2 separate regions of the Homo sapiens genome follow, and region 2 is linked to region 1. The links come from fine-mapping of genetic effects on gene expression. A gene starts in region 1. The other region holds a variant in brackets. All regions are shown on one strand. Distances are from middle to middle.

The links. PIP is the estimated chance that this variant, and not a neighbour inherited with it, causes the effect.
Region 2: its variant is the best candidate, but not a certain one, in a credible set for the expression of RDH11 in whole blood (TOPMed, PIP 0.57).

What each region holds. Positions count from the first base shown.
Region 1 is chr14:67,694,668-67,697,580 of GRCh38, reverse strand. It overlaps RDH11 (retinol dehydrogenase 11), which reads left to right and starts at 1,817. Exons shown (of 7, transcript NM_016026.4): 1 at 1,817-1,951. The coding sequence starts at 1,878. It also overlaps a transcript of GPHN not described here. RefSeq lists enhancers at 1,500-1,549, 1,570-1,619, 1,664-2,300 and a silencer at 2,650-2,709.
Region 2 is chr14:67,652,578-67,655,490 of GRCh38, reverse strand. It overlaps VTI1B (vesicle transport through interaction with t-SNAREs 1B), which reads left to right. Exons shown (of 6, transcript NM_006370.3): 5 at 1,993-2,054. It also overlaps a transcript of GPHN not described here and the pseudogene COX7A2P1. Among named protein-coding and RNA genes, the nearest start is that of VTI1B, 21 kb to the left of the region's middle. The variant A/C (reference allele first, on the strand shown) is at 1,243.

The sequences.
Region 1 (2,913 bases):
CCTCTTAGAGTTGTTATGGGAATTAAGAGTTAATATATATATATAAATCATTGGGACAGGGCCTGGCCATAATTAAGCAGTATTTAAGCACTGGCTATTATTGCCATTTCTGGCACTCTCCCTTCTCCCTAGACGGTTTTCTGTTGCTCTAGTGCACCCTGCTTTCTCTGACTGTGAACCCTCAGGTGGGGTCTTTCCTCTGCTCAGCACACTCTTGTCTATGTTGCTTGCCTACTAACTTCCCTCTGGCCTCCGCTCAAATGTTATTTCCTCAAATAAGCCTCTCCTGATCTAGAACTCCTCTCCCTTGTAAAAGCTCCCAGAGCTTTCTCTAATCCTCCTCATAACCTTCACCATGATTTATTTACAGTGATTACTTATTTAAGGTCTTCTCTGACAGTCCATGAACTCCGGGCGAGCAGAGATTATGTGTTCCTGGCTTCCTGCTGGACATCAGCACAGTGCCTAGTACACTATAGGAATGCCATAAATGTTTGTCAAATGCGTGAATGACTGAATAAGGAACAAAACAAATGAAAGGCTTTTATAAAGTTATAAAACCCAATACAAATATTAGGTAACACAATAATGAGAATGTGACAAAATGTGATGATTGCTAGGTAATCTAATGTTAAATTGGTAGGAATTAGTATTGTGTGAAGGAAACCCTCTCTTCTCCAATTTGCTATAAAATATATTAGTTCATTGGAACCCGTGTCTTTTAACCAAATGGAAATTATGCAAAAGGACCAGAAAATATTACTGGGTACAATTAAGGAATCACAGACAGATATTGATTGGTTAAAACACCCTCCACTTTCACCCCCAGGAAATAGGCCTCAGATGAAAGAAACTATTGAACAGGGAACCTATTTATTCACAGAGAACATATTCATGGCCTTAATTCAAGACAGGATTAAATACTTTCACGAGTTGGCAAAACCAACTGTGCCAATCTGAGATATTCATTGCTACCCTGGGAGTTAATGTATGTGACCCAAGCCATCAGGAAGACGATATTCTATTATCAATGAACACTCAAACACTAGAAAAATCATGATAGTTGCCACCATAATTCAAGATAGACACAATAAAGTGATTCTCCTGAGAATGTCTTCAAGGACTTATTGCTTCCTCTTCTCTGGAAAAAGGAATCCTCGAGGAGGAAGGGTTTACATTCCCCCACCTTCCCAACTGTCAGACTTCGGACCGCTCCTCTCCTGTCTAATCCGCCTTTCATTTCCCAGACGCCAACATCTGATCTCCAGGAGAAACAGTGCGGTAACTGCCTAACCAGGATTGGGGAAAACTGAACCAGGCACTGGACTTGGGTCTGGGGAGATAGAGGACTGCAGAGATTTCACAAACACCGCGGTGCCTAGTACACTATAGGAATAAGTGTACTATTCCTATAGTGTATACTTTTTTTTTTCCAGAAAAATCCCTCTGGGGTATGAGCACTATTTTCAGTTCTGGTTCAACTTTTCATTGAGATTCTATGTGGATAAGAGGATCTTGTAGTGAAAAAAAGATAAAAAGCAGTGTTTTCATCTGAGTGTGAGAAACCATGTGTGCCTAGAGGTGGGAGAACTGAGTATTCAGAAGGCAGAAAAAATAACTGAGAGCTGGGTGAATGATCCCACAGGCCCTAAGCCCTAGATGGTTGGGGATTAGCGATGTATAATTCAACTTCTGCCAGCGTTGGCGGCAGCGCTCCCACGTAGCCAGCCTGAGGCTGTCAAGCTCTGGACTACATTTCCCAGAAGGTCTGCTCCCCGGGCTGTCGCAATTTGAATTGGGGCGTGTCTAGAAAGAGAAGCCATAGTCGGCGAGCAACGCTGGAGCATCCCGCTCTGGTGCCGCTGCAGCCGGCAGAGATGGTTGAGCTCATGTTCCCGCTGTTGCTCCTCCTTCTGCCCTTCCTTCTGTATATGGCTGCGCCCCAAATCAGGTCTGTGCAAATGTATTGCCTTCTCTTGAGAATTCTTGTTGCGGGGCGGGAGGGAAACATAGAATCCCCACCAAAGCTTTCTTGGAAAACTCCCCTGGGGGGGCTCCAAGATGGCGGAGCCCAGAGTTCGGTGGGTTGGAGGCGAGGTCCAGCTGTCCTGGGTGCCAGGAGGACACCCGAGACCCCAGGCGGTGAGAAAGGGCGGCAGTCCGGGGCACACTGCTTTTCCCTGGCCTGTTTTTCTTTTGTCTAAGCACCCCCTGATTCTGGCTCCAGGGAATCCCGAGGGTAAGGCTACCTCAAACGCTTGAGTTTCGGACTCTTCAATGGGATATGGCCCGACGCTGTTTTCCCCTTATTCCCCACGCCTTAAACCAGCCTTCGAGGTACAAAGGAGCGATTCCACATTTCGCCCTCTGAAACTGATAGCAATCGTAACATCTGCGGCCCCATCCTTGCTCTCTCGTTGCTGTTACAATCGCTTGTTCTGTGGGCGGATGTTGTAAAGGAGAAAAGTGAAAAGGAAGAGTGTTTGGTTATGAGCTCTATCCTGCCTTGCGAGCAGGAGCACGGGGGATCTGAGTTAGGAGCTAGGGTACTGGGGCGGTGAGGGCTGGGAGAATGGTGGGAAGGTATTGACCAGGTGATAGATCAATCAGCCCAAGGCTGGCCAAGTGCCCCAGTGAATCAGCAGCGGGCTGTAAAACCGGCAGCCTGCTTATTGGTTCTAAGTAAATCACCAGTGGTGACGGACCAGTGACTGAATAGACAGACACACTCCTTCCCCAGGTGGGCGGTCTTAGTCCCAATAGAACTTGAAGCCAGGCCAGATCACAGTCATTTCTTACCACAGTCACCTACTTTCCTTCTTTTATTTTTATTTTCTCTTCCTTCTCTGGTGCCCCTCTTCCAGTTATATTTTTTCTGCCTTCTGAACACTCAGTTCTCCCACCTCTAGGCAC
Region 2 (2,913 bases), 42 kb after region 1:
GGTAAGCTGGATCATTGTGGAAAGAAAACAAATATTTAAATCAAATGATGACTATATCAGGGATCTCTAGTCTGCTGTCACTCTGAGAGCCTCAGAAAAATAACTCATTTATTTTTTCCTTTCCATAAATGAGTTAACCTACATAGGAATTTTTTAGTTTTTTAGAGACAGGGTCTTGCTCTGTCACCCAGGCTGGAGTGCAGCAGTGCAATTTTAACTTACTGTAGCTTCAAACTCCTGGGCTCAAGTGATCCTCATGTGTAGCTGCGATACAGGCATGTGCTACTGTGCCTGGCTAATTGTTTTAATTTTTTGTAAAAACGGGGTCTCATTATGTTGCCAAAGTTGCTCTCGAACTCCTGGGCTCAAGCAATCATTCCACCTTGGCCTCCCAAAGCGCTAGGATTACAGGCATGAGCCACTGTGCCCAGCTGGAATTTTTTTTTTTTTTTTTTTTTTTTTGAGATGGAGTCTTGCTCTGTCGCCCAGGCTGGAGTGCAGTGGCGCAATCTCGGCTCGCTGCAAGCTCCGCCTCCCAGGTTCATGCCATTCTCCTGCCTCGGCCTCCCGAGTAGCTGGGACTACAGGCGTCTGCCACCACACCCGGCTAATTTTTCGTATTTTTAGTAGAGACGGGGTTTCACCATTTTAGCAAGGATGGTCTCGATCTCTTAACCTCATGATCTGCCCGCCTCAGCCTCCCAAAGTGCTAGAATTATAAGCGTGAGCCACTGCGCCCGGGCAAAATTTTTTAATTGGTACAATTTACCAATGGAATGCTGTATTCTTAATAGCAGAAGGCAAATCAATTTGAAAAACATACTGTGGCCAAGATTTGGACAGGAAAATACTAGCTCAGTGTGAAGATTTGAGTAGATTTTCTTAATAGCTTCAGTTCTCCATTAAGTCAGAGTAATGCCCTGCCCTCTTCAGTGAAAATTCACAATAAAGTACTACATTCAAGGCAAGCTATGGAGAATGTAACTTGCTTACAGATTGTGTGGGTTTTGGTTTTTGAACATACCAGGTAGATTGGTTGAATTTAAAAGCCAAGGAGGCCGGGCTTACACCTGTAATTTTAGCACTTTGGGAGGCTGAGGTGGGAGGATGGCTTGAGCCTAGGAGTTTGAAACCAGCCTGGGCAACATAGCGAGACCTCATCTCTAGAGCGAGACCTCATCTCTATAGCGAGACCTCATCTCTACTAAAAATCAAAAAAAGGAGCAGGGTGTGGTGGCGTGC[A/C]CCTGTGATCCCAGCTACTTGGGGACATGTGGGGTTATTGCTTGAGCCTGGGAGGTCGAGGCTGCAGTGAGCTGCGATTGCAGCACTGCACTCCAGCCTGAGTGACGGAGTGAGACCCTGTTTCAAATAAATAAAAGCCAAGGAACGAGCTGAGAGGTCAGCTTACCAAGGCCACTGGGGAATGGGAACAGATGGCAAGTAGCCATCTGCTGGAGGTGAAATATCCTCCAGCTGTCCAGATTAGTAGCAAGCAGTTGAAAGTTCCATGGAGGTTAATTCTTTTCACAGTTCAATGTAACTGTCTCTTAAGAGGGTAAAGAAAAAAACCAGATCCCAAAAGCAGTAACAGACCAGCCTACAAAAACAAATGCCAACTCAAGAGGCTGTCCTGGAATTTGGCTGATGAAATTCAAATCTTAAGTTGCTCTACAGTCACTGGCTGGCCAGTCTGCTGGCTACACTTGAAGCCTTCCCTTTTGGAGTAGCCACGGTAGAAGATTAGCTCAGTCTCAGGAGTCCATCCCCAGCAGCAACCTGGGAAGATGATTCTTAAGCCTACTTGATGAGTACTAAAATATCTTGTCCTTTCCAGGTTCTTCTACTTACACTCAAAGGCCATCATTTAAATTGGCTTGATTTCTTGGAATTTTTCAACATATATCCCTTAATGCCTACTGTTAATCTAGGGATATTCAATTGTACAGAGTATACTTTTTAAAGAGGGAAATAATCACTATTTTCTCTTCTCAGCTGGTAAACACAAGTGAAAACTTGAGCAAAAGTCGGAAGATTCTCCGTTCAATGTCCAGAAAGTAAGTTTTATTAAAGTCATGAAATTTCTCTTAACTCAGTGGCTTTCAACCAAAAAGCTTAAAATAGTGACTTACAAAGGTCCTCATAAAGCACCTCAGCAGTTGACGCATAGTCCCTGTATACTCAGTACCACCCAGCAGACCAGAATAAAGACGCTAAGGAATATGGTCTTGGATAATTAAATAACTCAGGATAAAATCATTTGTTAAAAGTATATACTGCTTTGACTTGGAGCAGTGAAAAATTTCTCCACTGAAAGGACATTTAATCACAGCTGATGTTCTTTAGAGAAGGCAACACATGGGAATAACAGCTTCCTATTCCTTGAAATATATTTATATAATCTCAGCCCCGTGCGGTGGCTCATGCCTGTAATCCCAGCACCTTGGGAGGCTGAAGCGGGCAGATCACAAGGTCAGGAGTTCAAGACCAGTCTGGCTCAAATGGTGAAACCCGTCTCTACTAAAAATACAAAAAAATTAGCCAGGCGTAGTGGCGGGCACTGTAATCCCAGCTACTCAGGAGGCTGAGACAGAATTGCTTGAACCTGGGGGGTGGAGGTTGCAGTGAGCCGAGATGGCACCACTGCACTCTAGCCTGGGGGACAAAGCGAGACTCCGTCTCAAAAAAAAAAGAAATATATTTGTAAAATCTTGATTAGAAAGTAGTTTTCACTTGCATAGTACTTGCTTTTGGCTCTGCTTGCCCTTCATGGGAGTCAGCTCCTTTTCTGGAAGTTCTATATTGTAGGGAAGAAGTAGACTTTTAAAAATAAAACCCTTGTGGAGTTGTCAGGGTTCTTGGGCAGTAACTGAGTCAAGATGCTGCAGAATCTGCTGGCACTGTCAGGTTGCCCAG